3 separate regions of the Homo sapiens genome follow, and regions 1 and 2 are each linked to region 3. Evidence: fine-mapped expression QTL. A gene starts in region 3. Each other region holds a variant in brackets. All regions are shown on one strand. Distances are between the middles of the regions.

What was found.
Region 1: its variant is fine-mapped to the expression of TDRD9 in whole blood (INTERVAL, PIP above 0.99).
Region 2: its variant is fine-mapped to the expression of TDRD9 in whole blood (INTERVAL, PIP above 0.99).

The regions. Positions count from the first base shown.
Region 1 is chr14:104,040,317-104,050,797 of GRCh38, reverse strand. It overlaps TDRD9 (tudor domain containing 9), which reads right to left. Exons shown (of 36, transcript NM_153046.3): 33 at 10,464-10,481; 34 at 8,611-8,729; 35 at 1,118-1,190. Among named protein-coding and RNA genes, the nearest start is that of ASPG, 40 kb to the left of the region's middle. The variant C/T (reference allele first, on the strand shown) is at 5,929.
Region 2 is chr14:103,955,885-103,966,365 of GRCh38, reverse strand. It overlaps TDRD9 (tudor domain containing 9), which reads right to left. Exons shown (of 36, transcript NM_153046.3): 3 at 3,190-3,287; 4 at 812-1,033. Among named protein-coding and RNA genes, the nearest start is that of RD3L, 19 kb to the right of the region's middle. The variant G/C (reference allele first, on the strand shown) is at 4,127.
Region 3 is chr14:103,922,861-103,933,341 of GRCh38, reverse strand. TDRD9 (tudor domain containing 9) reads right to left here and starts at 4,886. Exons shown (of 36, transcript NM_153046.3): 1 at 4,618-4,886. The coding sequence starts at 4,832.

The DNA of each region.
Region 1 (10,481 bases), 120 kb before region 3:
TCACCCTCAGACACTCCAACCGAGCCTGATGGCCATGGGGGCTGGTGTGGCCGCCCCTCTCCTTGCCCATGGAGCTCTGCACACAATGGGGCCGGCTGCCAGGATCAGCCTTGGGGTCTCTAAAGAGGGACCTAGGCACAGGGCACAGGGGGAGCAGGCGAGCCTCACAGCAGGAGCAACCTTGAGGCGCAGGATGGGACACAGTCCTCCAAGGCAGAGCCTCACTTAGATCGTCAAAGGGGAGGGGAAGACTGCCCCTGCTGCTTTGTATCTAGAGATATCCCTGGCTCTGGAATTAAATCTCCAAACTCCTTTGGGCTCCTTTCTCTGAAATCACATTTTATTCCATTTCTAGCCCTACAGACAGGAAGTACCAGGGAGCCTATGAAGGGCTTTGTCCTTCTTCATGACTCAACTGTGGCCCCTGAAAATTCCTTCACTGAAGCCCGAACCCCCACTGTGATGTTATTTGGAGATGGGGCCTCTGGGAGGTGATAAGGGTTAGATGAGGTCACAAGGGTGGGACCCCAAGGATGGGATTTGTGCCCTAAGAGAGGACGTCTCTCTTTCACGTGAGGGCACAGTGAGAAGGTGGCCATCTGCAGATGTCCCTCAGAGGTCCTCACAAGGACCCACAAACTGGCACCTTCCCTAGGACTTCCAGCCTCCAGAGCTGTGAGAACAAATGTCTGCTGTTCCTAAGCCCCTACCCGTGGTGGCACTGTGACAGCAGCTCAAGCAGACAAAGACAACAACCAGTACAGCCCGAAAGCCACCAAGCCAGCCACATGGAAGGAACAGCCAAGGTGCATTTCACAAAGACCAACAAGAGCAGGAAGGTTCAATCCAGACCCTCATACCTTTTTTTCCCAACTCACAGGCAGTGAGTTATCCTGGTGTCTGACTCTTTGCCGGGACATCACATAGAAGACACTGTGCAGAAACAGCCTGTCTGGTCTGAGACATTTGCCAGCTGGCCCCCAAAGCCATCCACTTTGCCTCCTGTCTCTGCCTCTCAGACCCTCGGCCAGCCCTGGCTCTGAACCCTGGGTCTGCCCAGGGCCTGTCCCCTCCTCCACGTGGCCTCTGCTCATGTAGCAGCCTGCGTCCCACTCACCTGATTCCACTCGTAGGGCTTTTCATGCCACTTGGGAACAATCTTCTCCCTTGGTTTTGACTGACAGAACAAACTAATTTAAAAAAAAAAGAAATTATCTTAATTATATATTAGTAACTGAAAACACTGCTGTGATTTTTTTAAAGATTTAAATCCTATATGCTTCCCACAGAATTGGAACTAGAATAAACTGTTTAAAGGTCAACATTTATGCAGTTATGATCAGAAAATATTTTAATCTATGGCATATTCAAAAGCAGAAAGAAATGGAGTGTGACAGATCTGTAAGACCTAGTCTTGTCTCTATGTTCCCTTAGCAACCAGCACTGCACACCACATGAATGAGTCAAGTTCTCTGAAATGTAACAGGACATTTTGTACCATTAGCTCTCAAGCAATCATGACAAGTTGGAAATATCATCAGCTTAAAAAGATAGGGAATTTGAACAATGAGGGAGTAAAGAGTTCTGCAGAGCCTCTCCCCACTAAAAAACTATAAAACAAGGCAAAACTGTATACATACATACATACATACACACACACACACACACACACACACATACATACATACATACATACATACCAACAACAACCATTTGAAGGCTCTGGAAATTAACCAAAGGCAAAGGCAAACAACAAGTTGAGAAGCATTCATTCATGACAAACTGCCAGCTCCAGGTGAGAACAGTGGAGTATGTGGAGTTCTTGCTGGGGTAGGGAGCCGCTCCCACCCCATACACCTGCCCCTGAACCCAGCACCACAGCACTCCCAGGGCCATAAAGGCTATGTGATCTGGATCAGAGGGGGAAAAATCCTCACACCTTGACTTGGAGCATTGTCAGTAAAAACAGCAATGAAGGAAACAGATGGGGAAAGCCCATAGCTTTCCAGCCTCACGCCACATCCTGCTTGGGGCCAGCAGCAGACCAGACTATTCAGGAGGTAAAAGGGAGACTCTGGAAAGGAGAGTGCCACAGAGGGGGAGCAGGCCCTCCACACATCCCTGACTGATGGAGGGGTGCACACACGTGGGAAAAACCTGGGAAGCCCTGAGAAAAATAGAGGCCAGGGAAGAATCAAAAAGTGCCTGAACTTGGAGTGCACTTTTCAACCCATACTTAGCTCCAATGGCAAAGGGCAGAAGCCTTCAGGGCAGTATTTAAAGACAACTTTTGATTGATCACTGGCTAAGCACTAAGCTGTGCAGATCAGATACAAGGACAACACCTAGGAAGCCAGGCTAAAAAATAAAAATAAGAATAAAGAAAACAAAACGAGCTGGGCGTGGTCACATATGCCTGTAGCCCTACCTACTTGGGAGACTGAGGCAGGAGGATCGCCAGAGCCCAGGAGTTCAAGGCTGCAGTGAGCTATGATCACATCACTGCACTCCAGCTTAGGCAACAAAGTGAGACCTTGTTTCTATAAAAATTAAAATTAAAAACATAACAAAACAGCAGAACCCAGACATCAGTGACCTCACATCACAGGGGATGGACTTACAGGTTAAGACTAGGCACTTTTCTAAAGTGAAACAAACAAAACCACAAAACCCAAAAACAGCAGCTCTGGGGGAACTGCTCCAGTACATTATCTAAAGTACCCAATTTCCAACAAAAAAATTAGGAGACATCAAAGACACAGGAATGTGTGGCCCACACACAGAAGAGCAGCCAGTAGAGGCTGAGTGTGTGGCCAGCTGTGGGTTCAGCACTCAAAGACCTCAAGGCAGCCACTGTGAACAGGTGCCAAGAAGTTTTTTAAAAATAGGATAACAATGAATCAGGGATAATCTCAATAAAAATTAAAAACTACCAAAGAAACAACAGAAATCCTAGAGCTGAAAAGTACAATGACTGAAATGGAAAATTCTCTGTACCGCATCCACGTCGACCTGAGATGAAATAATAAAGGATCAGTAACCTTAGGACAGATCAACAGAAATTAACCAATCTGAAGCACAAAAAGGAAAGAGACTGAAGAAGAGTGACCAGAGCCTCAAAGACCAGTGAGGCCGTATCGACCGTGTCAGCACGCGTTTAACACCAGCGCACTGACAGACGTGCAAAGCAATGTCTCCCTAGGGGAGAAGAGAGCGGGCACGAGGCAGAAAAAAATATTTGAAAAAATTCAAAACTGCAAATATACTGTAAGTAAAAGGATAGAAAAAGCTCACAAATGGTAGCTAAAGAGAGCTGGGGTAGCTATATTAATATCAGACAAAATAGGCCTTAAAACAAGAAGCATTACTAGAGAAAGAAAGCTTTCATAATAATAATGATCTTGTATGTAGGAAATCCTAAGGAATCTACAAACAACTACTAGAATACAGAAGTTTAACAAGGTCACAGGATAAAAGACCAATATATAAAAATCAACTGTTCCTTTCTAAAAAAAATTCAAAAACAAAATTAAGAAAACAATTTTATTCACAATAGCATTAAAAGAACTAAAATATTTAGAAACAACTAAAGTGCAAGACCTGCACACTGAAAATTCTAAAACAGTATTAAGAGAAATTAGAGAATACCCAAATGAACAGACACTCCATCTTCATGGACTGGATGGCTCACTACTGTTAGGATGGCAATTCTCCCCAAACTGACTCACAGGTTCCACACAATCCCTACCACAATTCCAACAAGGATTTTTATACAAACTGACAAGCTGATCCAAAAATTTGCATGGAAAGGAAAAGAATATAAAAGAGTAAAAATAATTTTGAAAAAGAGCAGGCCAGGTGCGGTGGCTCACGCCTGTAATCCCAGCACTTTGGGAGGCCGAGGTGGGCGGATCACAAAGTCAGGAGATCGAGACCATCCTGGCGAACACAGTGAAACCCCGTCTCTACTAAAAATACAAAAAAATTAGCCAGGTGTGGTGGCGGGCACCTGTAGTCCCAGCTACTCAGGAGGCTGAGGCAGGAGAATGGCATGAACCCGGGGGGCGGAGCTTGCAGTGAGCCGAGATCACGCCACTGCACTCCAGCCTGGGCAACAGAGCAAGACTCTGTCTCAAAAAAAAAGAAAAAGAAAAAGAATAAAACAGGAGGACTAATGCTACAGCAATTAAGACAGTATAGCACTGGTACAAAGATAGATATAAAGTAATTGAACAAAACAGAAAACCCAGTAATAAATCTTTACATTTATGGCCAATTCATTTTTGACCAAGGTACCAAGGCAATTCAATGGTAAAAGTATAGCTTTTCAGTAAATGATGTCATCACCACTAGATGTTCATATGCAAAAAATGACTTTAGGCTCTTGTATCACATACCACATACAAAATCATCTCAAAATGGATCAAAAACCTAAACATAAAAAATTACAAAAAGAGAGAAAATGATTGTGACCTTCAGTTTAACAAGGATTTTTTAAGATATAGCACCGAAAACATAATTCATTTTTTAAAAAGATAAAGTAGGCCAGGCGCGGTGGCTCACCCCTGTAATCCCAGCACTTTGAGAGGCTGAGGCGGGCAGATCACGACGTCAAGAGATCGAGATCATTCTGGCCAACATGGTGAAACCCCATCTCTACTAAAAATACAAAAATCAGCTGGGCTTGGTGGCGTGTGCCTGTAATCCCAGCTACTCGGGAGGCTGAGGCAGGAGAATCGCTTGAACCCAGGAGGTGGAGGCTGCAGTGAGTCGAGACTGCACCACTGTACTCCAGCCTGGGCGACAGAGCAAGACTCCGTCTCAAAAAAAAGATAAAGTAGTGTCTTAGTCCATTTTCCCCTGTTATAACTGAAGACCAGAGAGTGGGTCACTTACAAAGATAAGAACTTGATTTCTCACAGTTCTGGAGCTGGGAAGTGCGGGAGCATGGCTCTAGCACCTGGCCAGGGCCTTCTTGCTGCATCATGACATGGCAGAGGGGCAAGTGAGTACTTGAGACAGGAAGAGGCACCGGGGCAGACCCACTTTACAACAATCCATACTCTCTTGATAACTAACCCTCTCTCACAATGATGACATGAGTCCAGTCAACCCCTTATTATGCCCAGCCTTCCAACACTGTTGCATTGGGTATTAGGTTTCAAACATATCACATTCAAACCACAGCAAGTAGATTTCATCAAAATTAAAAATTTGTGTTCTTTGGAAGACATCATTAAAATAAGAAGACAAGCTACACAATGGTGAAACTAATCGCAAATTACTTAACCAATAAAAGACGTGTATCTAAAATTTAAAAACAATTTCTACAACTCAATAATGAAAAGACAAATTTAAAAATGGGCAAAAGATCTGAACAGACATTTCACCAAAAAAAAAAAAAAAAGGATAAATGACTGGCTAAGAGGAATATAAAAAGTTGCTCTACATCATTAGTCATTAAGGAAACGAAAATTAATGCTACAATGAGATACTACCATACTCACCAGACTGACTGCAGTAACAACACGTGCCGGTGCCTCGTGCTGGTGAGAATGTGGAGAAGCCAGAGCCAGCCTATGTTGCTGGTAGAAATGTAACATTGTACAGCTATTTTGGAAAACAGTTTGGCTATTTCCTTTTTTTTTTTTTTCCTGATAGAGTTTCGCTGTTGTCACCCAGGCTGGAGTGCAATGGCGTGATCTTGGCTCACTGCAACCTCCGCCTCCTGGGTTCAAGCAATTCTCCTGCCTCAGCCTCTCAAGTAGCTGGGATTACAGGCGTGTGTCACCATGCCCTACTAATTTTTGTGTTTTTAGTAGAGACAGGGTTTTACCATGTTGGCCAGGCTGGTCTGGAACTCCTGACCTCAGGTGATCTGCCCACCTCAGCCTCCCGAAGTGCTGGGATTACAGGCGTAAGCCAATA[C/T]GTCTGGCCCTGGCCTTTTCTTAAAAGATTAACATAAACCTACCAATACAACCTACCAACTCCACTCATAGATATCTTCCCGAGAGAAAAATACATGTTCACAAAAAGACTGTATGTGACTATTCATAGCAGCTTTCTTCATAATGGCCAAATACTGGAAATAATCCAAATATTTTATCAACTGGTGAATGGATTAAAAAAGTGGCATAACAAACAATGAAATATTATTTAGTAAAAAGGAACATGATACAGTATGGATAAACCTCAAAAGTACTAAGCTAAGTGAAAGAAGCCAGATTTTAAAATTAAAATGTGATTCCACATATATAAAAATGTCAGAGAAGGCAAATATATAAACAGAAAGCAGATCAGTGGTACCTGGGCTGGGGTGGGAACAAGACTGCGTGTAAATGGACAGGGGGAACTTTCGATCCTCAACACAGCTTTACTGAGGTGTACTTTACATATCCTAAAAGTCATCAACTTTAGGAACATAATTGATTAGTTTTAGTAAATTTATGGGGTTGTACAAACAATGACACATTCTGTTTTAATATATTAGTCAAGCAGGTGGCATCTGCTGCCTGCTGCCAGGAGAAGTCAGGGCACCCCTGCATCTTGTCTTGGAGTCGCCAAGGAAAACACACAGTCAGACCCTGGCTGGAACGAACCTTTACTTACAGAGGGAGGCAACAGGACAGGATCAGCTCTAGTGACTGGCAGCGGTCCCTGTGGCCAGCGGGTACCTCCCGGAAGACAAGGCAGGCCTGCAGGCCCCTCTCTTATGTGGCAGCAGGAGAGCCCTGTCCCATCCCTGCAGTGGTGGGATTGACCAGGTACCGTATGACACACAGGCTTAAGCAGGGCAGAGCCGGAATCAAGGAAAGATCTTCCCACACATGGCGACGAGCCCCCCACAGGCTGTGAGGACCCTTAATCTTATGGGAAGGAAGCGTTTCAGGCCCAAGGCCTGTTCTCAGACAGCAGAGAGGGGATCAAAGGCTGCCTGCATGAGACTGCCTTTCCCGACAATACTTATGAGTAAACTTCTCTGGATGACAGAAATGCTGAAGAGCTAGGTTGTGTTGACAGACTGCACAACTATAAATTCACTAGAGTTATTGAATTGTTAAAACAAACAAACCAATACCTACTACCTATGGCATAATAAGGCAGGATACAGTTACCCTTGTTTTGGGGGCAGGGAGTGATGGTGGCTACAACCACACCCGCACACCCTAAGGAGCACCGGGGCTCTGACCTCGGTGCTGGCCACATGGGCATATACCTGTGTACTTAAACTTCAACCCACATTTTACATAAAAATATTTTTACTGGCCAGGCATGGTGGCTCACACCTGTAATCCCAGCACTTTGGGAGGCTGAAGCGGGTGGATCGCCTGAGGTCAGGAGTTCACCTGACCAACATGGTGAAATCCTGTCTCTACTAAAAATATAAAAATTAGCTGGGCATGGTGGTGGGTGCCTGTAATCCCAGCTACTTGGATGCTGAGGCAGGAGAATCGCTTGAACCCGGGAGGTGGAGGTTGCAGTGAGCTGCAATCGTGCCATCGCACTCCAGCCTGGGTGACAGAGCAAGACTCCATTCTCAAAAAAAAAAAAAAAATTACCAGCTTGGGCAACATAGCAAGACCTCATCTATGTAAAAAATTTAAAAATTAGCCAGGTGTGGTGGTGCACACCTGTAGCCCCTGCTACTAGGGAGGCTGAGGTGGGAAGATCATGTGTGCCAAGGAGTTGGAGCTGCAGTGAACCATGCTCGCACCACTGCACTCAGCTTGAGCAAGAGGGTGAGACTCTGTCTCTAAAAATAAATAAATAAATATTAAAAATATTTTTATATAAAAGAAAATGAAGAGAGAAAACTAAAACTGGCCTTTCTCACCATTTCTAAGACAGCTATATATAGCTTTTTAAAAAATGCTTATTAAACTAAAAGAAACCAACCCAAAAGGCATAGGAAGGAGAGAAGTGTCACCGTGATACCAGATGCCACCTGCTTTCACAGAGGTCCAGGTCCCAGCCAGCACAGGACACTGTCAGGCAAGGAAGGACCGGGCCCTTCCCAGGGAGACTGGCTCTGGGGCAGGAGCACAGGACTGGGTAGGTGGAATGCTGGTTTCTCCTCCATGACCACTCCCACTCTTCTTGGCCTTCCCGGGGCCCTCAAGCTGCCTTGGGCTCATGGGCTACACCAACAGGAGCCTTTTGTGTCTGCATTCTGGTTTGGTTTGTCCCATGGAGAGTCCAGCAGGAGGTGAGAAACAGGGAAGTCAGGTCAGAATGCTCCTTCTCCAACCTCCCCTGCAGAGAGGTTCAAGAGAGGCCCAGCTCTGTAAGGCCCAATCCTACAAGCCGGACTCCCCCAATCCCTAAGACACCCACCACTAGGAATGGTGGGTGACACATTACCCACTGTGGCTTCCCATGCCCTGCCCACGCTGTCCCTTCAAGGGACACACACACACAGGACAAGGGTGCTGCTCTCCACAGGAAGGGCGTGCCTACATTCTGATGCCTCCCAGTGCTGCCTCCAGCACTGGCACTCCACTTCAGGTGATCAATATGTCACATTGCCTACACAATTCAAAACAGCCATGATCAAGGCAGCTGAGAAAGTTGACTGGGAAGAAAAGAAGCCCGCGTCATCACACAGCTTACCCTAAAAGCTTCTGACGGGCAATGTCTTGAAGCTGCGCAACTCTCTCTGGCCCAAGACACTTGCATCCATTTGGTCCATCACAGACTAGCTTGTTAATAGCAGCCCTGAGAATATTAACCTGTAAATGAACAGCAACATAAACACTCATAAGGCTCCGTCGTAACTGAATTTCATCCCGTTAGAGAATTCATAGCATTCAGAGTTAGTATTCTCTGTCATCAGTATGGTTTATCCACTCGCCTGCTGAAGGCATCTTGACTGCTCCCAGTTTTTAGCAATTATGACTCAAGCTGCAATTGATATTCACATACAAGCTCTATGTGGATGCTAGTTTTCAAATCTCTTGAATAAATACCTACAGATGGGATTCCTGGGTCATATGGTAGATGCAGGCTTAACTTCATATGAAACTGTCTTCTAAAATAGTGGTACTAATCTGCATTCCCACCAGCAATGAACAAAAGGTCCCCGGTCCCCCTGCACCACCTCCTTGCCATTGCTGGTTACTGTCAGGTTTTGGATTTCAGCCATTCCAGTAAGTAGGTGGTGCTATCTCATGGAAGTCTCAATTTGCATTTTCCTAATGACATATGATGCTGAGCATCTTTTCATGGGTTTACTGTCATCCGTATTTTAATTCTGTTGCTTGTTTTCTTATAATTGAGTTTTAAGAGTGCCTTACATATTGTGGATACAAGTCCTTCATCAGATATGTAACCTGTAACTATTTTCTCCTGGTGTGCACTTTGTCTTTTCTTCCTCTGAAGAGGGTCTTTTGCGGAACAAAAGTTTTTAATTTTGATAAATTCAAACGTATCAATTTCCCCTTCACAGATTGTGCTTTGGGTGTTGTATTTATAAACTCATGCCACACCCAAAGTCACACAGATTTCCTGAATTTGCTTGTAGCACTTTAATAGTTTTACATTTTCCCATTAGGTCTATGGCTTAAGGAGTATTTTCAAGCCCATAAGCCCCTTCTTGTGACCAGGCAATTATGACTTAACAGTTGCAGAGACAACACTGATACCTGCCCCCGGAGCATCGGCAGCTGTCTCTGCAGCTCCTCCTTTCCCCCGGCCCTTCAGTGTGGTTATGTTAACCTCACCCGTCTCATGGAACTTCTAAGAAAGAAAGGCGACTGAGTACTTAGAAAGTAGCATTTCTCAAACTATTTGTGGTAAAGGATCAGTTTTGGTCTTCCCACTTTGTAAAATGCAATAAAAATAAATTACTATAACGATGAAAGATCTTTTTTAATGTACACAAATACGAGCCCACATTTCTATTATTAGATTCAAATGACATACAAATACTTTGTGTACTTGCTACACAGTTTCCCTGTCTGCCTTGCCACCTCACCCCAGAGCTAGTGCGGTGCCCAGACAATGCTGCAAGCAGCTCAGCTCTGCACTCACGCTGACCCAGCCCTCTGCTCAGCATGGTCACCAGGCCGGGAGAAGGGCAGAGGGGCAGGACCTTGTGTCCTCCTTTCCCAGTAAGAACTAGCAAGGATGTTCCACTTCCTGACTTGGAATGAGACCCACAGCAGCCCTACAGCCCCGTGGTTTAGCTGATTGCCCAGAAAAGCTTATGCCAGGAGACACCAAATGAGAGACTCAGAGAGCACCATCAGGAAGTTACTTTTCACAGGAAAGATACATCAAACTGGCAAGTTAAGGAGCGGTCCTCCTGGAGGGTGACTCCAGGAGGGACAAGGAACGTGCACATCTCCAGGACCAGAGGTGTGTGTCTGCACCGCGAGCTCCACAGCAGACCCTGCACTCACTGTCAGGTAAGCAAAACCAGAGAGAGACAGGGTTGTGGTGCCGTGATGCTGCACTACCCTTACCTCGACGACATCCTCCAC
Region 2 (10,481 bases), 33 kb before region 3:
ACAATTTATTTTCAAGAAATTCTTTTTTTCTTTTCGAAACAGAGTCTCACTTTGTCACCCAAGTTGGAGTGCAGTGGCATGATCTCAGCTCACTGCAACCTCTGCCTCCCGGGTTCAAGCAATTCTCATACCCCAGCCTCCTGAGTAGCTGGAATCACAGGCATGTGCCATCATGCCTGGCTAATTTTTGTATTTTTAGTAGAGAGGGGGTTTCACCATGTTGGCCAGGCTGGTCTCAAACTTCTGACCTCAAGTGATCTGCCCGCCTCAGCCTCCCAAAGTGCTGGGATTACAGGCGTGAGCCGCCATGCCCAGCCTTATTTTCAAGAAATTCTGTTTCACTGCTTTTTAAAATTATGCCACAGTTCTCTTCTATAAGCAGCTGGTTTCTTTTTTTGTTTGTTTGTTTGTTTTTTGTTTTGAGACAGAGTCTCACTCTGTTGCCCATGCTGGAGTGCAGTGGCGCAAGCTTGGCTCACTGCAACCTCTGCCTCCCGGGTTCAAGCAATTCTCCTGCCACAGCCTCCCGAGTAGCTGGGACTACAGGCATGCACCACCACATCCGGCTAATTTTTGTATTTTTAGTAGAGACGGAGTTTCACCATGTTGGCCAGGCTGCTCTCAAACTCCCGACCTAATGTGATCCGCCTGCCTCGGTCTCCCAAAGTGCTGGGATTACAGGCATGAGACACAACTAATTTTCAGCAGAAAATGGTCACATACTATCAACTTACACAGAAAAAAACTTAATAAAATTAAGGAATAGAGAGACAGCTGGCTCTCTTAGTCCCTCCCTCCCTCCCAGTCTCACCTGGTAGCCCACCACACCTCCCAGGGTCCAGGCACGCTCTTTACTGATCCACCTGGCGATGCTGCTTGCCCCTATCTTCCGGGGCTGGGTGACCACAATGCTGCAGTAGGCGGAGCGCTGAACGTAGTGGTCCAAGATATACTGCGGGAGCTGAGTGCTTTTACCGCTTCCCGTGGCCCCATGGATAATCACCACGGAATTACTTTCTATCAAAGACACAACCTAGAAATTTAAAAAATTCTTTCAAAATCAGCACAAAATGGCAATGTAAAGTATCACCTATATTAAGAAGTCTTTCAGGATTTATTTTTCTTTCATCTTAAAGTTTTGTTTTGTTTTGTTTGAGATGGAGTCTCGCTCTGTTGCCCAGCCTGGAGTGCAGGGGCGCAATCTCGGCTCACTGCAACCTCTGTCTCCTGAGTTCAAACGATTCTCATGCCTCAGCCTCTCAAGTAGCTGGGACTACAGGCGTGTACCACCACACCCAGCTAATTTTTGTATTTCTGGTAGAGACAGGGTTTCTTTCACCGTGTTGGCCAGGCTGGTCTTGAACTCCTGACATCAAGTGATCCGCCTGCCTCAGCCTCCCAAATTGCTGGGATTACCAGCAATTTCCCAAATTGCTTAAAGTTATTAATTAACCATTCTAAACACAACACAAGAGAGCAAGGAGGCGACAAACGGTTGCCACACTTAAATGCAACTCTACTACCTATTTAACAGTAATTAGTGGCTGGGCACAGGTGGCTCACATCTGCAATCCCAGCACTCTGGGAGGCCAAGGCGGGCGGATCACGAGGTCAAGAGATCGAGACCATTCTGGCCAATATGGTGAAACCCTGCTTCTACTAAAAATACAAAAATTAGCTGGGCATGGTAGCGCGCCTGTAGTCCCAGCTACTTGGGAGGTTGAAGCAGGAGAATTGCTTGAACCCTGGAGACAGAGGTTGCAGTGAGCCAAGATCGTGCCACTGCACTCCAGCCTGGCGACAGAGCAAGCCTCCATCTCAAAACAAACAAACAAAAAAACAAAAACAACAACAAAAAAAATAGTAACTAGTGATAGCTGTGGAAAAACCAGGCCAGGTTAACTCCAGCTTCCTGGGTCTCAACTGCTTCTGTAAAAATGAAAATGTAAAATTAGATTTCTATGACTCTTCCCAAGTTTCTATTAACATTTTGTAATGAATCTGCAAATAATTCTACTGAACATGAGAAAAAGAGCTGTTACTACATTCAAGTGGTTTTAAAATGTCATCTTAAATTCTTCAGACATATTTTTATCTATTAAATATCTGTTTATTTATTTTTAGACACAGGCTCTAGCTCTGTCACCCAGGCTGGAGTGCAGTGGCACAATCATGGCTCACTGCAGCTTTGACCTCCTAAGCTCAAGCCATCCTGCCACCTCAGCATCCCAAGCCAGGACCACAGGCACGTGCCACCATATTCCACTAATTTTGGGGGGTGTGTTTTGTAGAGATGAGGTCTTGCTATGTTGCCCAGGCTGGTCTGGAACTCCTGGCCTCAAGTGATCCTCCCACCTCCAGACATATTTGGAAACAAGTAACTTCCACTTTTCCACTTACAGATTATATGCAGCATTTTTAAAACTCCACTCAAATTCCTCCTCCAGAACTCCCCGACCTCCACTCTAAACTTATTTAAGCTCTTATCCTTCTAACAATTGATATGGTCAGGAAATACAAATTAATTTGAATACTGGCCTCTAATTTTTAGTTGCATGATTTACTCTAAAGCAAAGTAAAAATTAAATTTGAAACATTTCTAGTTTTATCTGTAACTCCTTCTTCCAGTTAATAAAGGTTCCGATACGCTTACTCTTAACGATGCTTAATAACACGCAAGTAATTAGGAACTTAATCGTCCTACTGTTACATCTGCCTGGCATTGTTAATACAATGGTATGTCAATGATTGATTACATTAATCAACAGGCAGAGAAAGGGCCAACGCTGTAAAGAAAACCCAGTGGAAATGCTAGGGTATGTCATTTGCTTCATAAAAACATTTAGCAGTGAGTTTATTTAAACAAGAAGCTCTCCTGGGGAAGACTAAGTGTTTACTTGCAGATATTTTGAGGAAGGAAAGACTAGATAAACTAAATGTTAGAAGATGTACTCAGGCGAAGACTAAAGAAATTAAAGCACAGATCAAAAGAAAAGCCATCGATATGGTTACTACACAAAATCATCTGCAGGTTGGCCTGAGCACACCCTCCTCTTATCCACCACAGAACCTTGTACACCACAGAAGTGTTCACCTGGCAACTGGTAACTTTCAAATTAGAAACCAAAAGTATTGGGCCTCAGACATGTATTCAAACAGCAAAATTACAGTATAACAAAACAATTTTACCTCTTCCTTGTATCGACTTATAGGCAAATCAGGATATTTATAAGTTGTCCCTGGGATGCATGTCACACTGCTTAATTTAGCCAAAGATGGCCTTGGACCTGGATTAAGGCAAAACAAACAAATACAATGCCATTTCTTATCTGGAAAAAGATAACTCAATGTTCTAATCTATAGATACAGCATACACACACACACACACACACACACACACTCAAATACAAAAATACATTTTCTACAGGCTAAAACTGCCATCAGGGCAATACCAAAGACATGGAACGAACATAGGTATCCATCAATGGTGGATTGGATAAAGAAAACATGGTACATATACACCATGGAATAATATGCAGCCATAAAAAAGAATGAAATCATGTCCTTTGCAGCAAGCAACATGGATGTAGCTGGAGGCCATCTAAGCAAATTAACACAGAAACAGAAAACCAAATATTAAATGTTCTCACAACTGGGAGCTAAACCTTGGGTACACACGAACATAAAGATGGGAATAACAGACACTAGGGACTCCAAGAAGAAGAGGGAGGGAGGGGCAAGGGCTGAAAAACTTCCTACTGGGTACTGTGTTCACTATACAGGTGATGGGATCAGTGGAAGCCCAAACCTCAGCATCACCCAATATACTCTTGTAACAAACCTGAACATGCACCCCCGAATCTAAAATAAAAAGTTTAATTTCTTAAGAAACTTCCCTTAGCAGCCCACTATTAATCTTGTATAAAAGCAAACTGAGAACATTCTATCCCTCCATCACAGCCACCAATATTGCAAGCTCAGCACTGCCTTCTAAAACAGGCCTGTAAAACACGCACTCATTGCTGATTCAGTGGTACCAAAACAGTTAAAGAGAAAACTTTTCCTTGAAATTTCAACAGAATGCATCAATTTAAGTGTGCATTCCCTGCTACTAAAATACATCAGT[G/C]ATAGCAATAAATAAATCAAACAATTTATGAAATACAGGTATCAGGAAAGCAGGCAGCTTGCCTCTGCTCAGGATACATGACACAGAGCTCTGACCAGGCACACTTCTCTGCCCTCTTGTAAAAACATGCCCTGCTCTCTGGCTGCACTACAAATTCTAAACCTCTGGTCATCACTTGACAAACTGGCAAATCATCAAAACTCACGGAAGACAAACTTTTGCTGGGAAATAAGTTTTACTTCCAAAATAAACTCTTAGCCAAATTTAGCACCGCACTCATTCCCTTACCCCACGACTCACCTTCCCTTCCTATCAGCCCCTTGTTTCTGACCAGCATCTCCTGCTGTGTCACCCTCGGCCTTTCCTAATAAAACACACAACCAGGCTTCTCTCTTGTTTTCCTACATCTTTTCCCTACATATATTCCCATTTTCCTAACTGGTCTAATAACATGTAATTAAAATGTGGCTATTTTCCCACATTTGAATCAAAGTTACGTGGTCCCTGTTCTCAATTATATAAACAGAGGAACCAGATCTGTCATACTTTCTCAAAGCAAAAATAGCTTCTTTGTGAGTATGTTCTTCCTAAAATATTAGTGACCCCTAACTCAGGAAAGCTGTCCTGCCGATATGGCTTTTTTTTTTTTCCTTTTTTCTTTTTCTTTTTTCTTTTTCTGGACAGAGTCTTGCTCTGTCCCCCAGGCTGGAGTGCAGTGGCGCGATCTCGGCTCACTGCAACCTCTGCCTCCTGGGTTCAAGCGATTCTCCTCCCTCAGCCTCCTGAGTAGCTGGGATTACAGGTGCCCACCACCACACCCGGCTAATTTTTGTATTTTTAGTAGAGATGGGGTTTCACCATGTTGGTCAGGCTGGTCTTGAACTCCTGATCTCGGCCTCTCAAATTGCTGAGATTACAGGCATGAGCCACCACGCCTGACCTATGGCTTTTTAATCTTCTAATCAGCCTAACTAGTGATTGCCAAGTTTACTAAAACAGGGATTTTCTTTCCATTATCACGTCTCACTTTCCTTCCATTCCTCTTCTCAGTGCTATGGTAATTACTGATGCCTTCTTGTTTTCCCAGTTAATATACCTAGGCCTTCTTGAACATAATGAAAGAAGGGGAAGAGAATCCCCATGGCCCTTGTGAACTGGACTGAGAGAAAGAAGGCCCTGAGCCCAGACACAGCATGCAGACAAAGGGAGAGGCAAGTATTCTAGTGAGGAACAGGGTGGGAGTAAGAAGCTGAGGAAGAGCTACTCAAAGGGGAAAGAAGGTGACAAAGATTCTTTTAGAAAGACGAAAAAGGCTGCAGCCACGTTCGTTTTGCTAAAAGACTTCAAGCCCTGGCTCACATGCCGCTAAACAAGCCCTGTTACTTAGACAATATTGGCTTACATTACTTGATTACATGCATTTTGAAGACTGCTACTTAAAGACAGAAATTTTACAAGAAAAAATGCCAGAAGTCCTAACGGTACTGTCTATACCATAGCCCCTTCTCCATGTAACGCAAAACACAAGCTGACATTTTTAGGTCACTGGCTGAAGCAGACCCAGCACAAATCAAGTCCTGCCTCCGCGTACACTGCCAAAGGGCAGACAGGAAACCAAACAGCAGAAATGTTCCCAGCTGTGTGGCTCTCGCACCTTTGCATCAGCAACAGAATAAGAAGGAAATCCATCACGGATAATTTAAGGCAAATCAACAAACTACATACAACAAAGCAAAAATCCAAAAACGGCATGAGGACCAGCTCAACCTTAAAATTGACTATTCTTATTTTCTTGCTGTCTCTTTATCCTACATGATTAACAACACAATGTTTTACATGAACTGGGGAAAACTGGAAGCCATAAAAATTGCTAGTTCTCTTCACTAAGACATATCACTATATCACCATCAACCAAATATGAAATCTAACCAAAAAGTTCAGCACCTAGAGGTTCTAAACAGCATGTAAGGAATTTTAACTGGTAAGTATGTCAGTTCACATGGTGAACTTAAGACTTATCTTCAAATCTACACACTATATATTACAGAAAATAATTTTAATTACTGGATTACTGATGTAACCATAAAATTAAATCTTCCAAATAGATAATTATATATGACTTTCTCCAAATATGGACTAGTATTCTGAATACAAAATTAACTTGAAGGAAGAATAATGTTTCTCTTTCGGTTATTAGACATTCCACATAGGCCATTCTCTTAAAACCAGAAGAAAAGCTAAAAGGAGGATGAAAACAGCCACTAAATATATCACCACATTTAAAAGGAGGCAGCACTGTGGAATTTAACTACAATCTAAAGACTGTATCCCAGGACAAATTCAAATTGTTGTGTGAAAGCAACAGAACCCTTCAGGAGTCGACAACCTAGAACTAGGCTCACACTGTAAGGAAAGATTTCATTTATCAATGCAAATAAATCTCAGTTTTTAAAAAATGATTAATCTTTAACCATGTAAAATGATTCTACTGTAATCGATAGAAATTCACTGAATGGGTGTCCTTGGATTTCTATTTAGAAATAATTTTTAATACTTATAAGTGAAATAACACCTGTATCAGGCCAAAATCAAAAGTGTTTTGAATCAAATTATTTTATAACTGGATATAACAAAATGTTCATGCTGAAACCTGTGGCACTGGACTGGAATTAGAGGCATCAGTGTAATCTCATGGTTTTAATAGAAATAGACATAGAAATAGCTTTGTGTCTGTGTGTGTGTGTGTGTATGTATACATACACACACACACACACACACACACACGATAACCTGACCTTACTTCTTCAGTGCTCCAGAGGCACTTCAACACTTCAAAACATTTAGCAGACATGACGGTGACATGTTTACAGTCCCAGCTATTCAGGAAGCTGAGGCTGGAGGATCACTTGAGTCTAGGAGTTCAAGGCCTACCTGGGCAACATAGCAAGACCTCATCTCAAGGAAAAAGAAGTGGACAGCACCTCTCTGCCTCCTGTGGCCTCCTCCCTCACCCTGTGTCCAAGGCATCACCAATTCCTGTCCGGTTTGTCCTTCAACTGGCTCTCCTCCTCCACTGCCATCCTCTGTCAAAGACACCATCAAGTCTCACCTGGACTAGGACAATGCCTCCAATTCTCCTCAGGTCCACTCTGGCCCCCTCCAATCAACTCTCAAAAATATGACCAAAGCACTTTTTGTAAAACACAAATCTAAACACATGACACCCTCTTCCTCCCTTCACAGTCATCCCAAGAAAAGCATGGAAACTTTCATACCTTCCCACTGCTCTGAGTATTAAGACCAAAACTCTTCGTTACAGCCCACAGGCCCTATTACTAGTCTTGCCTATCTCATCCAACCTCATCCAATACAAGTGTGTTAGTTTTTTACTGCTGCTGTCACATTTTACCTCAAACTTAGTGGCTTAAAACATGCATTTATTCTCTTACAGTTCTGGAAGCAGAGGTTCAAAGATGAGAAGGACAAGGTGTTGGCATGGCTGCTGGATCCTTCCGGAGGCTCTGTAAAGAAGAATCTATTCCCTTGCCTTATCAGCCATGGAGAAGCTGCCTGCATTGGCTCATGGCCTCTTCCTTGTATCACTCCAACCTATGACTTCTGTTGTCACATCTACTACTGACTGATCTTCCTGCTTCCCTCTAGGAAAAACCCTGTGATGACATTAGGCCCACCTGGAAAATCTTCCCATCTCAAGATCCTTAATTTGCATCTGCAAAGACCCCTTTACCATGAAGGTGATATATTCACAGGTCCTGGGGATTAGAACATGGACCTCTTTAGGAGGCTATTAGCCTCCAGCTGACCCTGCCCAGCCCTCCCACACCCACTGTCTACTCCCTAGCAGCACTGGCCCCTCTTTCAGGGCTGGAATACCAGGCTTCCTCCCAGCACAAGGCCTCTGCACACATTTCCCTCCCTGCACCCCCACACTGCCTCAGTAAGGTCCACTCACCCTTCAGATCAAAGCTCAACTGTTACTTTCCTGACACCACAGCCCAAGTCAAATCCTTGTTTTACACCCCCATAGAGCTGGCTTTCAGATAACTTATTTCCAAAAAGCATTTATTTGTGTAACTGGATGACTAAATGATCATCTCTACAATGATCAGAGATGATCAGAGTTAAAGTCTTTTTTACTTGTCATATTCTCGCTGTCTCATACAGTCCCTGGAACACACCTTGATAAATGTCAGTGGCTAAGTAGCCCAAACCTCCATAAATAGCCAAAGCCATAGTTGATCCGACTGCCCAGAGAAAAGCCCCAAATATATTATGATACCATGCATAAAGAAAGCAAAGAGAGTTTCACATATGAACTTAAAAGTATGAGAACAGACACTTCGAGTTTCAGGCATTCATTTGTAATCTAGCTAGTCCTAAAGAGTGGTAATCCATCCGGCACGCTACAGGCCCAGCACGCAGGGTGTGCCGGGCTGCTGCCTGTGCCCCTGGGCCAGTACGTGAGTGTGACAAGAAGGATCACATCACACAGAGTCATCTATAAACTAACTAATGTGCTTTCCAAACAGAAGTATTAGATGATGGCTCTCTTTCCACAATAACACATACGGCTACTTCCTACCTCCAAAGCTGCACAGTACTCTTCCTTTGTACAAAAGACCAAAGTCACCAATCCTCTGTTCACTGGCATATAGGAGATTCTTAAGACTTCCCATAGATTAAGTAACAATTCAATAAACATTCTTATACGTACAACTTTGTACTTTTCTTAGCATAAGTAGAAATTGGACCAGAGATAACATACACTGTGAATGCTCACTTCTGTTAATACACTGGGTTGTTCAGACAAATCTCCTTCCTGAGATCAACTAAAGATGTTAGATGAAATACACAAACCTCTCCTTAAAAGCACCAAAGGGCTGATGAAATAGCAAGGAGACATCAGGCCAAAGCCTGTGATGAGGCAAGAACACAGAAAGGGAGGCAAACAACCAAAGGCTGCTTTTACCTTAAGGTGATAGATCTAGCAGAAATTAACCAGAACAGAGCACACTGACCAAAAAAATGAAAAACACAAAACTAAATGAAAGAGTGGGCCATAGATGATGGCTCAGAATTTTCCTAGACTAATTAAAAGGTACTAATTGGTATAGTCAAGAAGCCTAAATCAATCCCAAGAATGATAAGGATTAATCTACTATTATGTATTGACTGTATTTCATACTTTTTAAAAGGCTAAAAAAGAAAGTGTTACTTGAACCCACATTTGTGCCCGACTCTGAGCACACTAATACGCAGGATGGCAGGACAGGAGGCAGAGCTTCTCAACTGAACTAGCAGAAATCTATGACAGATGACCTCTCATAAAGCAAAAAAAATCAAAAGATAACTTCTAGCATATGAATAGGGCCTGGTGCTAGTAAGATAATTTGCTCAGAAAAAAACTCCATACTCACAGAAAGTAACTAACGGTGAACTCTGAACAGTTGTACTCTTGGGAACTGGGAATTTAAGAAGGACCTTTTACTTTTTTATTTTATACATTTCTGCATTGTTTAAAATGTCATTTTAATATCTTTATTGTAAAAAAAAAAAAGTAGTTTTAATTAATAGCAAGGTAAGAAACCATTATTAGTCTTCCGAAGAACAGACTATTTAGGATGATCTCAGCTCACTGCAACCTCTGCCTCCCAGTTCAAGCGATTCTCTTGCCTCAGCCTCTCCAGTAGCTGGGACTACAGGCATGCACCACCATGCTCGGCTAATTTTTGTATTCGCCACTATATTTCTTAAAGGCTTCTAATAATTTTTTCTTTTTTTTGAGACGGAGTCTCACTCTGTTGCCAGGCTGGAATGCAGTGGCACGATCTTGGCTCACTGTAATCTCTGCCTCCCAGGTTCAAGTGATTCTCCTGCCTCAGCCTCCCATGTAGCTGAGATTACAGGCACACGCCACCACACCCAGCTAATTTTTGTATTTTTAGTAGAGACGGGGTTTTACCCTGTTGGTCAGGATGGTCTCAATCTCCTGACCTCGTGATCCACCTGCCTCGGCCTCCCAAAGTGCTGGGATTACAGGCATGAGCCACTGCGCCTGGCCTAATAATTATATATATATATATATATATATATATATATATATATATTTTTTTTTTTTTTTTTTTTTTTTTTTTTTTTTAAAGAGAGGGTCTCCGTATGTTGCCCAGGATGAACCTGAACTCCTAGCCTCAAGTGACCCTCTCACCTCAGCCTCCCGAGTAGCTGGGATTACAGATGTACACCACCACATCCAGCTAGTTTTTTTATTTTTTGTAGAGACAGAGTGTCACCATGTTGCCCAGGCTAGTGTTAAATTCCTGGCCTTAAGTGATCC
Region 3 (10,481 bases):
GCACAAAGAAACACAAGGCAGAAGGAAGCTGGGAGTGACGCAAGGCTCCCAGCCATGGGCTGCAATCCACAGGAAAGCTGGTGCTACACACTGGAGAATGCTCAAAATGGTATATCACAGCCACTGAGGTTTTCTTCTTCATATGCCAAGGTGAAGACACGAGAATGTAAGGATAACAGAAAGAATAATCACCATCAAAGAGTAAAATACAGTACCATGTGGAAGAGGAGACATGGGGAAATCCGTAAAAATCACTGGAAACAAAATTTATAAATTGTTCCCCACAGGCACTCCGGCAACACCTTCATCGTGAGTAAGGTGTTACTCACCTTCAGCATGAGCAAGATTCATGCTGGGACCCACAGGCGCCCACACCATCTCCGGCAATTCTTGTCTGAACTACCTATGATGTAGTCTGGCATTTTCTATTTATTTTTTAATGCTGGTGGTCACTACTCATTAAGCTGATTAAAAAAAAAATTGCCCATGTTCTTCTGCTGATTTAAGCTGATTTAATCATTAAGCTGATTTAACAACACTCTCTCAGACCGGACTGCAGTGACTTGGTGTACACTAATTTTACCATTGAGTGACTATCTCTAACAAATACATTTTAACTGTGCAATACCCTATGCTTATAAAAGCCATCCCTCCCGGCCGGGCGCAGTACCTCACGCCTGTAATCCCAGCACTTTGGAAGGCCGAGGCAGGCAGATCACGAGGCCAGGAGATCGAGACCATCCTGGCTAACACGGTGAAACCCCGTCTCTACTAAAAATACAAAAAATTAGCCGGCTGTGGTGGCGGGCGCCTGTAGTCCCAGCTACTCAGGAGGCTGAGGCAGCAGAATGGTGTGAACCCGGGAGGCAGAGCTTGCAGTGAGCCGAGATGGCGCCACTACACTCCAGCCTGGGCGACAGAGCGAGACTCCGTCTCAAAAAGAAAAAAAGCCATCCCTCCCCTATGTCAAATGTTCTCTCACTAATGTCAATGCCTCACTCAACACTCTCCTTCACTGGGAAAAATAACATTCAACAAGTATCCAAGTATCCACTATGTGCCAGGCACCGTGCGGGGTTCACAGGTCGGCTCACCCCAATCCGAACCCAGCTCTGCCACCAGATTTGTACCCTAATGCAGTGCTGCCTCAACAAATCGCAAAAACATAGCAGTTTCAAACAAGGCAAATTAATTACAAGTCCAGGTGAACTCAACTGGATCCCCTGCTTAGGGTTTCCTAAAGCTAAATCAAGGTGTTAGCAGAGTTGCGTTCCCTACTGGCAGTGCATTCAGGTTGTTGGCCAAAACCAGGCCCTTGCAATTGTAGGATCAGTCCCTTGCAAACTCAGTCCCTTGCAATTGTAGGACTGAGGTACCCATTTCCTTACCTGCTGTCAAGTGGGATCCAGTCTTTGCTCCTAGCTGCCCATATTCCATTCTCATGCTTTCCATGTGGCCCCTCCGAGCAATGATATTTCAAATCTCTCATTTCAAATTTATCTGACTCCAGCCTGAGAAAGTTCTCTGCTTTTAAGGGCTCATGTGATCAGACTGGGCCCACTCAGACAATCTAGCTAATCTTCCTGTCCTATGATCTGTAACCTTAATTACAGCTGCGAAATCTCTTTCACCATGTAACATTACATAGTCACAGGTTCCAGTGAACATCTTTGGGGGAGTCATTCTTCCCATCACCACCATTTGCTACAGGAAGTTGGGCAAGTCACTTTACCACCAAAACCTATTGCTTCATCTACAAAATCATGAAAGAATCAGTTGATGATAAAGCCATCAACCTCAAAGTGTTGTTGTGCGGATTCAATAATATAGCTATATTTAGCTGAGTGCCTGCTACGTGCTGGAAACTCTGGCATTGAATACATATGCACCTAGAGCCCAGGAAGCTACTTCCAGAAGAATTTCATCAAAACTAGCACTACTCATAGACCAACATTGCCTGTCACTGGTTAAATACAGAAGTTAAAATGTTTACATCAATTTCACAAAGTAATTTTACATATGTTGAATTTTTTTTTTTTTTTTGAGACAGGGTCTCATTCTGTCACCCAGGCTGGAGTGCAGTGGCACAATCTCAGCTTACTGCAACCTCTGCCTCAGGGACTCAAGCAATTCTCCCACCTCAGCCTCCTGAGTAGCTGGGGCGGCAGGCACAAACCACCATGCTGGGCAAATTTTTGTTTTTTTTTTTGGTAGAGACAGGGTTTCACCATGTTGGCCAGGCTGGTCTTGGAACTCCTGACCTCAAATGATCTGCCCACCTTGGACTCCCAAAGTGCTGGGATTACAGGTGGGAGCCACCACACCCAGATTGAATCTAATAATTTTTTAACTGCGATTAGTATGTTGTCTTTTTTCATTTCATTGCTCTGAAAATTCATTTTTATTGATTTTATAAAAGTCTCAGTCCATGAAGGACTAGAAATCTTAAAAACTTGTCCTTAGTGCTTAAAATGGCACTTAAATCTATACTTTCTGACAAGGTCAATAATAATTTACTTCCAATATTACAATGGGTTATTTAATAGCAATGCTGTTCACACCGTTAAAACTAAGGAGTAAGTGATGGACCATTAAGTAGGGGAGGCGGCCCACAGGATCATTTACCAGAGTAGCTCAAGGAAGTAAAGTGTGCAAACATACAAACAGCAACTCCAAAGTTGCACAAGGGGTCTCTCGGTCCCCCCTATGCCTCTAAGAACCAAATTTACCAAAGATCCCAAAGGTGTACTTGAAAGAACTCTACAAAGGCTTGAAGCAACCCACGAAAGCTTGACCCAGAGTCTGGGCCTATCCATCAAATCAGACAAGACTAACAAACAAGAGTAACTTTAAAAAAGAAAAATAAAGCCAGGCACGGTGACTCACACCTGGAATCCCAGCACTTTGGGAGGCCGACATGGGTGGACCACAAGGTCAGACCGACCTGGCCAACAAGGTGAAATGCTGTCTCTACTAAAAATACAAAATAAGCTGGGCGTGGTGGCACACGCCAGTAATCCCAGCTACTCGGGAGGCCAAGGCAGGAGAATCGCTTGAACCCAGGAGGCGGAGGTTTGTGGTGAGCCAACATTGCGCCACTGCACTCCAGCCTGGGCAACAAGAGCGAAACTATGTCTCAAAAAAAAAAAACCAAGAAAAAGAAAAACAAAACCACCTTCTCAACTGTAAAGCGTGCTGGACTTGGGGACTGAGCAAGAGTGACGGAGATACTCCAAGCTGGAAGTACTTCTCCCAGGGCCTTTTTAAAGAGCGAGAAGAGGGAGCAGGTGTTTCTACTCACCAAATCTACGTCTTTCCTCTAAAAACAGAGGATATACTCTTGCTTTTTATTTCCACCCAAATCAAGTGAACAGAGTAACTGATGGTAGCTACTTAAAGAATAGTGAGATGAGGAGGGAGTCTGTGAAACTTAACAAAGATTCAGCATTTGCACTCCTTGGTATTTACCCAATGAGTTGAAAACTTATGTCCACACAAAAACCTTGCCAAAACTTGGAAGCAGGCCGGGCGCAGTGGCTCACGCCTGTAATCCCAGCACTTTGGGAGGCTGAGGTGGGCAGATCACCTGAGGTCAGGAGTTCTAGACTAGCCTGGCCAACATGGTGAAACCCTGTCTCTATTAAAAATACAAAAATTAGCCAGGCGTGGTGGCATATGCCTGTAGCCTCAGCTACTCGGGAGGCTGAGGCAGGAGAATCGCTTGAACCTAGGAGGGGGAGATTGCAGTGAGGCGAGATGGCGCCACTCCACTCCAGCCTGGGTAACAAAGTGAGACTCCATCTCGGGGGGTGGGGGGAGAACTTGGAAGCAACCAAGCTCTCCTTCAGTAGGTGAATGGAGATAAACTGTGGTACATCCAGACAGTGGAATATTAATCAGTGCTAAAAGGAAAGAAGCTATCAAACCATGGAAAGGCATGGAGGAACCCCCAAATGCATACTAATACTAAGTGACAGAAACCCATCAAAAAGGCTACACATACTGTGTGATTCCAACTAGATGACAGTATGGAAAAGCAAAATTATGGAGACAGTAAAAAAATCAGTGGTTTCCACGTGGTGTAGGGAAAGGGAGGCAGGAACAGTGGGGCCGAGAAGATCTGTAGGTCAGTGAACTCTGTAATGCGTGACGTTAGGCGTTTGTCCAAACCCACAGAACGTCCAGTACGAGGCGTGAACCCTCCTGTAACGATGGCCTCCGGGTGACGAAGACGCAGCGATGCAGGTTCGCCGACTGTCACAAATACCCACACCTTACGCAGATGCTCACAGGGGAAACTCTGGGAGGGAAGGGGCCTATGGGACCTCTGCCCTCCGCTCCGTTATCCTGAAAACCTGAGTGCCTCAAAAACTAGTCTGTTAAACATTAAGAACTGAAAAAAAAAAAAAAAAAAAAACCTCTAGCTCAGCTTCCTTACAGGCACCGCTCTGGGCCGCGCGTCGGGTTGTGTAGTGACCACTCGCCCTGGACGGTCAGGGGTCCCTGGAGCCCCGCGAGAGGGCACGGGCTCGCGAGAAGGATCTGGATGGCCCGTGCCCTCGTCGCCAGGCCTCGCCCGGCCGCCCTCCAGCCGCCTCCGCCCCGCCCGCGTCCTACCTTTCGAACGCAGCGGCCGGCCGGGCCGGAGCTTGGGCCAGAGCCGGAGCCTGGGCCGCGGGACCAGCGCCGGGGGCCACGTCCTGGCGCTGCACCTCCTCCCTGGCCGCCCCTGCCGGGAAGGCGGGCGGCGCGCCCAGCAGCTCCACATTGGTCACCGTCTTGCCGATGGTGAACCAGTCGTTGATCTGCTCGATGGTGAGCTTCCGCAGCATCCTCAAGGCCCAGGCGTCGGCATCCCCCAACTGCCGGGTCTCCGCGGCGGGAACAGGCGACGGCGGAAGCGCACCCTGGAAGCCCCGCCCCCGCTCGAGGCCTTCCAATCAGAACGCGCCGCGCGCCCTTGTGGGCGGGCTCCGGCCCGGGCGCGTGCTGCCCGCGCTGCCTGGTCCTCGTGCCGCCGGCCCCGCCCCGCCGCGCTAGGCCTGCCGGGAGCCGCCGCCCCGAGCGAGCCCAGGGTGAGCCTTTCTAGGACCTCAGGGGAAGCTTGAGCGCCGCGGCTGGCCCGGGAGTCTGTTTCACGGGAGTTCCGTGGCAACCCCTGTGTGTACAAGAAAATGCCCTCCGGTCACTCCCTGGCCTCTCTATTTAGAGGCTGCTGCCTCGGAGGTTTGTGCGCTTTGAGCGGACCGGGACCCTACATACGTTTCTTGAGCACCTCAGGGTGAGGAGATGGAAGGCAAACCAGAGAAGGGATTTGCGTTCGTGGGTCAGACGTACCAGGACATCCTTGCACCTAATATGGGGGGAGAGGGGCAAGAAGAAGGTCAGGAAGGTCTCGGAGAAAGTAACGCCAGGCAGACCCCTGCAGGATACGGGGGAATGCGCCAGACGGAGGACCACCCAGGGTTATAGGGGAGGGCAGGCGGCCCTGATGGCTGAGGTGAGGATCTGGGAGAAGTTCTTTGCAGCCGGATCATAACTGAATTCATCTTCCTTCCTAAACCGGTGTCTCAGGCGGCGGTGTCAGACTCACAGCTGGACACAAACAGGTGCGGACAGGAGGTCCAGGCGATCACATGGACCAAAGATACAGGCTGAGGTGGTCCCGGCCGAGCTCTAGAAGAGTGAGGGTGGAGAACAGAGCCCTAGCAAACTCCCCAAAAGAAGGAGCCGCGGGAAGAAATCAACAAAGGATGCACGGGAAGGCAGCCACGTGTGCAAGGGAAGGGAGGGTCAGAAGAGAGACATGGCCACCTGCCTGGGGTGTGTCCCCCTCACTGGCCAGGGCAGGATCTATCTGGCCCATGTGGGCTCTCAGGAAAGAGCCATGTGAACAAATACAGAGACGGTATCGAGAGCATGGCTCTAATCAGCAGTGTAAAGCCCAAGCAGTGGCAAATAAGAGGGCGGTTTGAAAACACTGTAGACAGAAATCAGGCAGGTAGGTTGAGCTATTGGTGTCTCAAAAATTGAACCCATAATCATACTAAGCCAGGAGTTCTGGCTCCAAATCCTGGCATAATGAGCTCTAGACCTCATATTAGGACTCTGCCAAATACGACAGGTTCCCAAAAGTGCCTCAACACACTTTGCCAGGAAGAAATAACTTGCTTTTCTTTTTTCTTTTGAGGCAGGGTCTCACTCCTGTCGCTGAGGCTGGAGTGCCGTGCTGCAATCAGGGCTCACTGCAGCCTCAACTTCGGGGGCTCAGGTGATGCTCCCACCACAACCTCCTGCATAGCTGGAACTACAGGCTCACGCCACCACCACACCGGCTAATTTTTTATATTTTTAGTACAGACAGGGGTTTCGCTGTGTTGCCCAGGCCAGTCTCAAGCTCCTGGGCTCAAGCAATCTGTTTGGGAGCCCTTGGCCTCCCAAAGTGTTGAGACTACAAGCATGAACCACCATGCCCAGTCATGTTTTTCAAAAAATAAGAAAAAAGGTAATCATAAAGTAATTGAGACTCATGGTATGTCATTCAGCATTGATTGGAAAATATTGTAACTTCACACTGTATGTGGAGGCTAGGACATAATTCAAAATTTTACAAAATATATTGAAACCACTTGAAGCAACTCCAGAACTCACACTTGTTTTGTTTTGTTTTTTGTTGTTGTTTTGAGACGGAGTCTTGCTCTGTCACCAGGCTGGAGTGCAGTGGCGCGATAGCTCACTGCAACCTCTGCCTCCCAGGTTCAAGCAATTCTCCTGCCTCATCCTCCGGAGTAGCTGGGACTACAAGCATGCACCACCATGGCTGGCTAATTTTTTGTATTTTAGTAGAGACGGGGTTTCACCATGTTGGCTAGGAAGGTCTCAATCTCCTGACCTCATGATCCGCCCGCCTCGGCCTCCCAAAATGCTGGGATCATAGGCGTGAGCCACCGCGCCTGGCCTGTTTTTCTAGGATGTTGCTGTTACCGTGTGCTGTCATCCTTTGTTGATGTCACAATGAATACGATTTTAAGTGGAAGATGCTTTTCAAAAACATTTTCTGGGGGGCATTTTCTATATTCTTTGATCTTTTGGGCTACTAGCTAATCCTTCTGAGTTTTGATTTTTTTTTTAATTGCAATCCAAAGATACTCTCTTGATGCTTCTTTGGAAATTTGCCAATTTGGAAAGTTGCCATAGTGTTTCCTGACCAAACACTAGTTAACATTCTGAATCATCACAGACTGAATGGCTTTGAGCACCTTTCATTTGATTCAGTAGTTCTCGGTGCTCCCAACTCACTTGGTCAAGTTCACCTTGCATTGCTGTCCAAAGTTCAGAGTTAAAAGAAACAGCTTGGGCTGGGCGCGGTGGCTCACGACTGTAATCCCAGCACTTTGGGAGGCTGAGGTGGGCAGATCGTGAGGTCAGGAGTTCAAGACCAGCCTGACCAACATGATGAAACCCCATCTCTACTAAAAATACAAAAATTAGCTGGGTGTAGTGGCGCGCACCTGTAATCCCAGCTACTCGGGAGGCTGAGGCAGGAGAATCGCTCGAACCCAGGAGGTGCAGGTTGCAGTGAGCCAAGATCGCACCACTGCACTCCAGCCTGGGCGGCAGAGCAAGACTCTGTCTCAAAAAAGAAAAAAGAAACAAGAAACAGCTTGACATCAGATAGATCTTCATGGACTTGTCACATCTAGGCCAGAACACATGGGAAGGCCACTGAACCCCTAGTGAGCCATGGTATTTTGGGAAGGTTTTGCATATTTGCATTCACTGAGCATTTGAGCGTCCACCAAAAAGGGGAAACTAACAGCTGAGAGCAGTTACAAATGGTGTTGGTGCCATTCAGCAGCACTCTCCTCAAAGCAGAGGAAGCTGTGCTCGAAGTAGCTTGCTGTCTTCTCCAGCCTTCCTACCACAAGATGCAACATTCTGCACTTTGAATAAATCTGCTGGAGTGGCCCTTTCCTTAAACATTTAGGTTTTTTTGGCCGGGCGCAGTGGCTCACACCGGTAATCCCAGCACTTTGGGGGGCTAAGGCGGGCGGATCACGAGGTCAGGAGATCGACACCATCCTGGCTAACTCGGTGAAAAACCATCTCTACTAAAAATACAAAAAATTAGCCTGGCGTGGTGGCGGGCGCCTGTAGTCCCAGCTACTTGGGAGGCTGAGGCAGGAGAATGGCGTGAACCCGGGAGGCAGAGCTTGCAGTGAGCCAAGATCACGCCACTGTGCTCCAGCCTGGGCGACAGAGCAAGACTCTATCTCAAAAAAAAAAAAAAAAAAAAAAGAAACATTTGGTTGTTTTTTTTTTTTAAGATGTGCGTTTCTTAGGGTGTTTTGGATTTGAAACTAAAGACATTAAAACTCTCTTGGTCTGAGCACAGTGGCTCACGCCTGTAATTCTGACACTTTGAGAGGTCAAGGTGGGAGGATCACTTGAGGCCAGCAGTTCAAGACCAGCCTGGGCAACATAGCAAAGTCTATTGATCTCAAGTCTAGTTGGAAGTTCAGAAGCTCTGTCTTGAAGCAGCTCTCCATGATGTTCTTCCTTAAGTTTTTCCTAAATGCTTGTTCTCGTCCTCAGCAGTGTTATAAGTCATTATAAATCTAAAACTCTAAAACATTTTTACTATAGGACAGTGGTTCTCAAACCTGGTTCTGTCTCAGAACCCCTTTACACTCTTAAAAGTTGCTGAGGACCCTAAAGAGATTTTGTTTATGTGGGTTATGTCTATCAGGGATTACAACTGAGAAATGTTTTTACTTATTTATTTTAAAATGATAAACCCGTTTGATGTTAAACAGTGTATTTTTCTAAAACGTCACTATGTTTTCCAAAAAACATTGTGTGTGTGTGTGTGTGTGTGTGTGTGTGTGAGAGGAATAACACTTTTACATTTTCAAAGATCGCACCACTGCACTCCAGCCTGGGCGACACAGCAAGACTCCATCTCAAAAAAGAAAAAAAATGATTTTAACTGGATCTTGAGCCTTTTATTATTTTATCTTGACACATCTGAGCTCGTTTTCCTTGTGCCTGAATAATGAACATTTATTTTACTGTGGATCTGCTTGTGATTATTTCAGTCCTAGCTGCACCATTTTATAAACCCCCCACCATTTCACAGACCCTGGTCGGAGTGAAACATTCCATGGGGGCTCTGACCATAAGAAACATCCTGCCCAACTGCCTGACTGCGGGAACATCCTTATCACATCCTGCCAGGCAGCAAGCCATACTGCCCAGACCCATCCAGCCCAGACCTATAATTACCCCAGCCTGGAAGCGGCAGTGAGCTCGGGCACTAAACTGGTTATCCGCTCCACGGGTTTTTGCTGGCAATAAACCTGTGTTGCTGTTGAAGCCACCATCTCTCTCCCCTCTCCCCTCCCCCCCTCCCTCTGTGTGTGTGTGTCTGTCTTGTCTGTCTTTAACCCTTGCCTTCCCTTCAAAACCTAATAATTTCCTCTTTTTTTTTTTCCTTTAAAGATGGGATCTTAATACATTGGCCAGGCTGGTCTCAAAATTCTGGGCTCAAGCAGTCCTCCCAAAGTGCTGGGATTACAAGCATGAGCCACCATGCCTAGCACGATTTCCTCTTAGTTTGTCCTTAACTGTCTTTATTTTACCTTCTTTTCTGAATGCCAATTTCCCTGTGTATAGAATTCCCTGTGTATAGAATTCTTGATTGGTGGTTACTTTCTTTGAGATTTTATCTTTATCTTTTCTATGGCTTTATTGTGAGATTTCAAGGTATTGATTTATTTTTATTTATCTGCCTGCTTGGTTTCTGTAAGGCTTTTTGTTTGTTTTTTGTTTTTTGTTTTTGTTTTTGAGACGGAGTCTTGCTCTGTTTCCCTGGCTGGAGTGCAGTGGCGCCATCTCTGCTCACTGCAAGCTCCGCCTCCCGGGCTCACGCCATTCTCTCACTCAGCCTCCGGAGTAGCTGGGACTACAGGCACCCACCACCACACCCAGCTAATTTTTTTGTATTTTTGGTAGAGACGGGGTTTCACCGTGTTAGCCAGGATGGTGTGGTGATCCGCCCGCCTTGGCCTCCTAAAGTGCTGGGATTACAGGCGTAAGCCACCGCGCCTGGCCTCTGTAAGGCTTTTTGAATCTTTGGCATGATTTTTTTCTCATCACTTTTGGAAAATTCTCAGCCATTAGCTCTTCAGATATTTCTGCCTCACCTCTTTAATTTCCTTCTAAGATACCAATTACCCATATGATTGGTATCTTTCCTGCTGTATCCCTCTTATTTTCTGAATGGCTTCTTCGATCTTGCAGTTTATTCTTTAACTGTCTAATCTGCCAAATCCATCCAATTTTTTGTTTTGTTTGTTTGAGACAGAGTCTCGCTCTGTCGCCCAAGCTGGAATACAGTGGCGCCATCTCAGCTCACTGCAGCCTCCACCTCCAGGGTTCAAGCGATTCTCCTGCCTCAGCCTCCCAAGTACCTGGAATTA